2 separate regions of the Homo sapiens genome follow, and region 2 is linked to region 1. Evidence: fine-mapped expression QTL. A gene starts in region 1. The other region holds a variant in brackets. All regions are shown on one strand. Distances are between the middles of the regions. Region 1 holds the start of CARHSP1 (calcium regulated heat stable protein 1). Region 2 overlaps PMM2 (phosphomannomutase 2).

Region 1 (4,505 bases):
TGATGAGTGAATAGTTGTCTACTGTATAGATACACAACATTTTGTTTATCCTTTCATCACTTGATGGACATCTGAGCTGTTTCTCCCTTTTGGCTACTATGAGTAATACTGCTATAAATCTTACTCTGTCACCCAGGCTGGAGTGCAGCAGTGCAGTCACGGATCACAGCAGCCTCGATCTCCTGGGCTCAAGGGATCCTCCCACCTCAGCCTCCCCAGTAGCTGGGACTACAGGTGGGTGCTACTACTCCTGGCTAATTAAAACTTTTTTTTTTTTGGTAAAGAAGGGGTCTTACTATGTTGTCCAGGCTGGTCATAAACTCCTGGGCTTAAGAGATCCTCCTGTCTCGGTCTCCCAAAGTGCTGGGATTACAGGCGTGAGCCACCACGCCCAGCCCAACAAGTAAATCATTATTTATCTATTTATTTATTTTTGAGATGGAGTCTTGCTCTGTCGCCCAGGCAGGCTGGAGTGCAGTGGCACTATCTCGGCTCATTGCAAGCTCCGCCTCCCGGGTTCACGCCATTCTCCTGCCTCAGCCTCCCGAGTAGCTGGGACTACAGGGGCCCGCCACCGCGCCCGGCTAATTTTTAATATTTTTAATAGAGACGGGGTTTCCCCGTGGTCTCGTTCTCCTGACCTCGTGATCCGCCCGCCTCGGCCTCCCAAAGTGCTGGGATTACAGGCGTGAGCCACCGCGCCCGGCCTATTTATTTATTTTTAACTTTTTTTCCCCCCCGAGACGGAGACTCGCTGTCGCCCAGGCTGGAGTGCAGTGGCATGATCCTGGCTCACTGCAACCTCCACCTCCCGGGTTCAAGTGATTCTCCTGCCTCAGTCTCCCAAGTAACTGGGATTACAGGCACCCGCCACCAAGCCCGGCAAATTTTTGTATTTTTCATAGACACGGGGTTTCGCCATGTTGGCCAGGCTGGTCTCCAACTCCTGAGCTCAAGTGATCCTCCTGCCTCGGCCTCCCAAAGAGCTGGAATTACAGGCGTGAGCCACCGCACCCGGCCTCAAGTAAATTTTTGTGTGGACAAACATTTTTATTTCTCTTGGGCGCGCAGACACCTAGGAGTGGAGTTGATGGGTTTTATGGAGACTCCAGGGCTCGTGGTTTGAGGAACCGCCGGGCTTTTTCCACAGCAGCTGCGCGGTTGTTCCCACCAGCCGTCTAGGACGGTTCCTTGCCTGGCTTGGACTAGTTGGTTTCGCTGCTGGGCCTTTTCCCCAGTGGCCCCAATAGGGGCTGCAGAGTGAGGCAGGCACAGTCCTCACCGCCGCCTCCGGGGGCCCTGTTGTCCCGGGCGAGCTCCGGGGACCTCTCTCCTTCCCCGCGCCCCTCAAATACCAAGCTGACCCTGGTCCCGGGATCTAGGCTCGCCTTCAGGGGCTGCTCTCGACTGGCCGTGCCCATGGGCTGGTCGCCTCTCTGTGCCTCAGTTTCCTCTCCTGCAAAACAGAGGTAACATTTTTTACCTCCAAAAACAGAGGACTCAAGGAAGGCTAGAAATGAAACAAGAGAAGAGAACAAAATCAAAATCCCCAACGAGAAAACAAAACCCTGTTTTTCTGGTGTGTGTGTGCGTGTGTATTTTTTCTTTCCCTTTTCCTCCTTTCTGTTTTTTGCTTGTTTTCTTCCGTCTCTCTTTTCATTCCTTTATTTCCTTTCTGCTAAAAGTGACACCCTCCGGGATTATACAGATTTTAGAGCCAAAGGCAGGTGGGAGCCGCACCTGGCGCGCGTGGCGAGGGGAAGGAACTGCACGGGCGCAGGGACACAGTTCCCCCACTTTGCAGGGGCGTTTTCTGCTGGTGGGTGCAGCCCAGCTCCGCCCCGCCCCGCCCCGCCCCGGCCCCTACGTCCCGCGCTCTGCGTTCCGCTCTCCCGCCAGTCTAAGGCGCGGACACAAAGGTCCTGTCCGGGCCACTCCCGCCCCGCCCGCCCCCACCGTCCCGGGCTCCCTCCCGCAGCCCCATTGGCCGGGAGCTCCTGGGGGCGGGGATCGGCGCCCCACCCCCCCTCGGGCCACGCCCCCTCCCCAGCTCCGCGCTCTCAGTCGGAGCGAAGCGGCTGGCGGAGCAGAACGGATTGCAGGGTAGGGAGCTCTTCTCGGGGACCCCAGGATAGGCGCCCCTGGCCCGCGGCCCCGGGAGCCGCAGGGGTGGGGCCTCGGCCTCCTCTGCCTCCATCGTCCCCCATCCTGCAGGGTCTTCTAGCTCGGCAGAGGAGGGCTCCGGGCTGGGTTTCTCGGGGCCTGTTTGGGGAACGCGGGTTGCTCCTCCCCAGGGGAAGGGGTGGGTGTGGCAACAGCGGCAAGGATTCTAGGCGGACGTCGGGTAGTACTTCCCGCCTGGCCACCTGTTCTCTGCGTGCAGGGGAAGCTCTTCCCGCCCTCCCCGCTGCTTTTGCCTTTGGGCGGGAGCCCTGGACGGGGGACTCGCCGGGCGGTGGGGCGAGGCGCGGGGGGCGTCGCACGCGGGAAGCAGAGCCACCCCCCGCCGGGCCTGGCCGCGCCAGCTGTGGCTCGAGGTTGGGACGGCGGCCAGGCCCGGCGGGGGAGGTGGGGAGCCGTCCTGGCGCCGCGCGATTAGCCGCATCTGGGGGAGGAGGAGCCGCCGGGCGCGCTGGGCCCGGGTGTTTGCGCCCGGATGGGGGTGGGGGTGCCTTAGGCGCTGGAGAAAAACTTCACCCGCGCCCACAGGCCCCCTTTCCGCAGGCTGCGCTGGCGGTTCAGGTTTGCAGGCCGGAAGTGAAATGTTCTTTTTTGATTTTTAAAAAGGAAGCCTCCGGCCCTATGGTTTTCTGGGGTTGGAGTGGATGTGTGTGCTGGGGGAGGCGGAGACGTCCCGCTCCAGGCAGGGCCTTGGGTCTTAATAGGTGGGGAAATCTCTGCCAAATAGGAGGCCTCTCGGAGCCTCAGTTTCCCCATCTGCAGACTGGGCTCTGACTTCTTCTGGCATGAGAGGGTGTGTGAGAGTAAAAGGAGGCAGCTAGCCCCGTGCCGGGAGACACGTAAGCTACTGTTTTTTAACTTGCTGTTTTGATATTTCTCAGTCTCTCTGTGCCCAGTCTTGCTTGCCCCTGTCATTTGCTGCCACTCTGAAGCCAGAGGGAACTTAGAAAAACAATCCGCTTAGATCTACCCCACGCTGAAAATCGTCCACCGAAGTCCCATTGTCGTCTAAGTCCCCAACTTCTCAGCAGGGCTTCCTGTTATCTTCCGCCACTACCTTCTCCAGCCTCTCTCTGCCTCTGTTCTCCCTCCCTTCGGGCCTTTGGCCCTCCTCTGGGCTCGGGGTCCTCCTTGGAGACCCCACCGCCCTCTGCACTCCCTGGGTGGCCTCGGTGATGACCGTGAGTTCTCGATGCTGGTCCCTTCAGGGCAAGAAAGAGGCGCAGAGCCCGGCTGGGAGTAGATGTTTTCAATGAGCTGAGCTAGGCCTGGCGTGGGGCCATGGGGTGGGGTTGAGGGTGGTTGACGGTGGGTCCCCTAGGTAGGGGATCGGTCTTTGTTCCACCGAGTGGCAAAGCCAGCGCATTTGGTTTGTGTTCCATCAGCAGGGGCAGGAATGGGAGGGAAGGTGATTTCAGATGGGCCCGTGCCTGACACTTCCACCATCAGCCGCACTATTGTGGACTGAGCCCGCCGTGCGCTTGGCATTTTCGCGGCACCATCTGCACAGCGTCCGAGCCCTGCGACGCAGCACCGCTCCTGTCCCCTTTGACAGATGAGGAAACTCGGGTGGGGCGGTGAAATCGCCTGGCAGGGGTCACAGAGGGAGTGGGGACCAGTCAGGGCTCAATCTCAGGTCTGAGCCAAAGCCCCCCGAGAATGGAGGGAAGGATGGAGGGATTGAGTGGGGGAGGCGTGTAGAGTAGGGTTCTTGTTGAGAAGGAGGGCTTGGGCTTCCCGCAGGAGGGGCAGTCCAGGCTGAGAACTGGGGCGGGCGCAGGGTCCCAGGTGGGTGGTGGCGGTGGGGTGACCGTCTCCCTGCTGGGTGGGGTCGCCCGTCCGGTCGAGGCCGTCCAGGGGTGCTAATGGGGGCACAGGCAATGGCAATGTTGGAGGCCCCCTTGGGTTCCCGGTACACTCCTCGGGTTTCCGGCCTCTTCCCAGCACTCAGGGGCTCCTGAGGGCGGAAGAGCTATTCCCAGCTTGGCGGGGCCTGGGAGGGGGCTCTGGGCAGACGTAGGCGCCGGGCTGCACCTTCCCTGCCCGCCTGTTTGCACTTCTCTGTGACTGTTGGCTTCAGGTCCTTAGCCAGCGGAGGGCTGACTCCGGCCTGGCTGCCCCCTCCCCTTTGCCTCCCGTCCCTCCCCCTGGACACTCCAACCCCCATCCCTTCGTGTCCCTCCCCCTCCTCTCTCTCTGCTCCTCCCTCGCCAGACCCCCCGCTCTCCCCGGAACAATGGAGGGGAATGTGGCTAGGCCAGCCTGACGCTGCTGCGTCAACCTCTGGCTCGTTCTCGGCCTCTATCGCTTCCAGGGACCCTTCT
Region 2 (4,216 bases), 36 kb after region 1:
TGCTTTAATACTTTTAGAGGCCGTAAAAATCACAAACTATGCTCAACTCACTCTCTACATTTCTCGTAACTTCCAAAATCTACTTTCTTCCTCATACCTGATGCATATACTTTCTGCTCCCCGGCTCCTTCAGCTGTACTCACTCTTTGTTAAGTCCCACAATTACCATTGTTCCTGGCCCGGACCTCAATCTGGCCTCCCACATTATTCCTGATACCACACCTGACCCCCATGACTGTATCTCTCTGATCCACCTGATATTCACCCCATTTCCCCATATTTCCTTCTTTCCTGTTCCTCACCCTGATCACGCTTGATTTATTGATGGCGGTTCCACCAGGCCTAATCGCCACATAGCAGCAAAGGCAGGCTATGCTATAGTACAAGCCACTAGCCCGCCTCTTAGAACGTCTCATTTCCTTTCCATCGTGGAAATCTATCCTCAAGGAAATAACTTCTCAGTGTTCCATCTGCTATTCTACTACTCCTCAGGGATTATTCAGGCCCCCTCCCTTCCCTACACATCAAGCTTGAAGATTTGCCCCCACCCAGGACTGGCAAATTAGCTTCACTCAACATGCCCCGAGTCAGGTAACTAAAATACCTCTTACTCTAAGTAGACACTTTCACTAGATAAGTAGAGGCCTTTCCTACAGGGTCTGAGAAGGCCACCGCAGTCATTTCTTCCCTTCTGTCAGACATAATTCCTCAGTTTAGCCTTCCCACCTCTATACAGTCTGATAACGGACCAGCCTTTACTAGTCAAATCACCCAAGCAGTTTCTCAGGCTCTTAGTATTCAGTGGAACCTTCATATCCCTTACAGTCCTCAATCTTCAGGAAAGGTAGAATGGACTAAAGGTCTTTTAAAAACACACCTCACCAAGCTCAGCCTCCAACTTAAAAAGGACTGGACAATACTTTTACCACTTTCCCTTCTCAGAATTCAGGCCTGTCCTCAGAATGCTACAAGGTACAGCCCATGTAAGCTCCTGTATAGACGCTCCTTTTTATTAGGCCCCAGTCTCATTCCAGACACCAGACCAACTTAGACTGTGCCCCCCAAAACTTGTCATCCCTACTATCTCCTGTCTAGTCATATTCCTATTCGCCATTCTCAACTACTCATACATGCCCTGCTCTTGTTTACACTGCCGGTTTACACTGTTTCTCCAAGCCATCACAGCTGATATCTCCTGGTGCTATCCCCAAACTGCCACTCTAAACTCTTGAGGTAAATAAATAATCTTTGCTGGCAGGACTATGCTGAATCTCCTTAGGCACTCTCTAATCAGATGTCATAGGTCCTCCCAATTCTTAGACCTTTTATACCTGTTTTTCTCCTTCTCTTATTCCATTTAGTTTCTGAATTCATCCAAAACCGTATCCAGGCCATCACCAATCATTCTATACGACAGATGTTTCTTCTAACATCCCCACAATATCACCCCTTACCACAAGACCTCCCTTCAGCTTAATCTCTCCCACTCTAGGTTCCCACGCCGCCCCTAATCCCGCTTGAAGCAGCCCTGAGAAACATCGTCCATTCTCTCTCCATACCACCCCCTAAAAATTTTCACCGCCCCAACACTTCAACACTATTTTATTTTTCTTATTAATATAAGAAGGCAGGAATGTCAGGCCTCTGAGCCCAAGCCAAGCCATCGCATCCCCTGTGACTTGCACGTATACATCCAGATGGCCTGAAGTAACTGAAGATCCGCAAAAGTAAAAAT[A/G]GCCTTAACTGATGACATCCCACCATTGTGATTTGCTTCTGCCCCACCCAAACTGATCAATGTACTTTGTAATCTCCCCCACCCTTAAGAAGGTTCTTTGTAATTCTCCCCACTCTTGAGAATGTACTTTGTGAGATCCACTCCTGCCCGCAAAACATTGCTCTTAACTTCACCGCCTATCCCAAAACCCATAAGAACTAATGATAATCCACCACCCTTTGCTGACTCTCTTTTGGGACTCAGCCCGCCTGCACCCAGGTGAAAAAAACAGCCATGTTGCTCACACAAAGCCCGTTTGGTGGTCTCTTCACACGGACGCGCACGAAACCCTCTACCCGCCAGGCATTGCTTTAGCAGCTGGGGATACGGCGCAAACCAAAACCACATCACAGCTGCCCTGGGGAGACCAGTCATCAACAGACAGCTCTTGGGCGCCTTGTTGAGCAAAGGGAGGGAAGGGCTGCCAGGCCTGGAGGGTGAGGGAACCCTGGCATCTGAGGGACGTGAGGGCACAGGCCATGTGGCCATCAGAGAAGACGCTGAAGAGGGAGGATGGGCAGGGGCTGGGGCCGGGCCACAGCGGGCCTCACAGATTGTGGTAAGCACCTGGGATTTCACGGGTAGCCGCCTGAAGCCTGCAAGCCCGGGCCATGATCAGATTACTTTACAACAGGATCTTTCTGGAGAACGGGTGCGGGGTGAGGACGCAATTGAAGGGAGCAGTTAGGAGGCTCCTGCAGCCGGCCAGGGTGCAAAGAGGACAGAGGCCATTACCTGGGAAGAGACCCCTGAAGCAAAAAGGGTTTATGCTAGTCCCCTGACAGTTGCTAGGCCTGCCCTTCCCTGCAGATGTCACATGCAGGGACAGAGGCCTAACGGCACGAGTCTCCTCCCGTGGTCCTGCTGGGGGCTGGTGGGGAGGTGTCTGTGGAATCTGAGTGATCTGTGTGCATGTAACTCGCTGACACTTAATAAAGCTAGGTCTGGAGAATCAATTCCCATCCAGGAAGGTGAAATCCTCCCGACCCTGGCTGCAGGAGCCTCTCTGGGTTGCTTCTCAGCTCCACCCGCTTTCAGAGAGCCGCACGGCTCGCAGGAGCATCTGCATCACAAACACAACCTGCCTCAGGCCTTCCTTTCTCTCCCGCCAAGGGTCTGCTTCTTTCTTTGTGACTCTCAGAGCATGGTGGGCTCCTTCCTGGGGTGCAGCCTTCTTGGGGCTGTGTCGAGCTTGCATACCAGAGTAGCTGCAAAGCAAGTGAAGCGGACCCCAAATGAAATGAAAGGAAAGCTGGCTGCCCTCTAGAATAATAAGGCTAGAGAACCGGAAATTTCAAATGCTGGATTTGCATATGCACTAAAGGTTACTTGATTCTAGTTGGGGAACTCAGCCACCTCCCAAGCTCCAAGAACAAAAACCCTGTTCCCTGGAGAAGGGAGGGAAGGGGGGAGGGAAGAATGAACGATCCAATTTCTCATTATAGTGTACCTGACAGGCACCAAAGAGAGGCCAGGGCTCAGTGAAATCCGCGCATTAATATTTAAATCCCTAATAGTCCCAAAGTCTGAGGATGAAACAGAAGGCATAGTGTTGGCCATGTTCAGATGCCAGGGGGCTGATGAGTCTCCCCACCGCAGCCCATTTCTGTACATGCTGTTGCTGACCTGTGCAGTGTAGCAGTGAACCCCAATCATCCAAAGAGAGGAACAGTGTGATCTATCACAGCCTGCGTGAACTGCTTCGCTGGTAGCAGTGGGTGTGTGCTGTGTGGATGCCTCCTATAGCACAGATGGACTCTCTGTAGCTCGTGGTCGGGACTCTTATTTATTTTTGAGACAGGGTCCCACTCTTGCCCAGGCTGGAGTGCACTGGTGCGACCATGTCTTGCTGCAGCCTCCACCTCCTGGGCTCAAGCGATCCTCCCACCTCAGCCTCCTGAGTAGCTGGGACTACAGGTGTGCACCACCATGCCTTATAGTCGATTCTTGCTATGGATGTTTATTTTGGTTGTTTAACAAGTATTTATCAAATTTCTAGGTATTATGGATGCAGGGACTGAAACCACATTTGCAAAAATTATAACTGAGAAAATGTTAACAGTGAAAGAGATCTGGCCTGACTCCATCTTGCTTCTAACCTCCAAGCTGTCCTTGTTCATTCCAGGGCACAGGCTGAACTAACCTTGGGAGGAATTCAGTTTATAGTTCAACTTTGTTTTTTTTGTTTTTGGAGACGGAGTCTCACTCTGTCACCAAGGTGGAGTGCAGTGGCACACTCTCGGCTCACTGGAATCTCTGCCTCCCAGGTTCAAGTGATTCTCCTGCCTCAGCCTCCCGAGTAGCTGGGATTACAGGTGTGCACCACCACACCTGGCTAATTTTTGTACTTTTAGTAGAGGCGGGGTTTCACCCTGTTGACCAGGCTGGTGTCAAACTCCCGGCCTCAAGTGATCGGCCTGCCTCAGCCTCTCAAAGTGCTGG

The links. PIP is the estimated chance that this variant, and not a neighbour inherited with it, causes the effect.
Region 2: its variant is the best candidate, but not a certain one, in a credible set for the expression of CARHSP1 in lung (TOPMed, PIP 0.54).

Annotation. Positions count from the first base shown.
Region 1 is chr16:8,866,564-8,871,068 of GRCh38, reverse strand. It overlaps CARHSP1 (calcium regulated heat stable protein 1), which reads left to right and starts at 2,063. Exons shown (of 4, transcript NM_014316.4): 1 at 2,063-2,103. It overlaps CARHSP1-DT (CARHSP1 divergent transcript), which reads right to left and starts at 1,788. Exons shown (of 2, transcript NR_186721.1): 1 at 1,741-1,788; 2 at 1,030-1,456. RefSeq lists a silencer at 1,741-2,700 and enhancers at 2,841-2,900, 3,906-4,505.
Region 2 is chr16:8,830,887-8,835,102 of GRCh38, reverse strand. All of the region lies in intron 7 of PMM2 (phosphomannomutase 2), which reads right to left. Among named protein-coding and RNA genes, the nearest start is that of PMM2, 35 kb to the right of the region's middle. The variant A/G (reference allele first, on the strand shown) is at 1,736.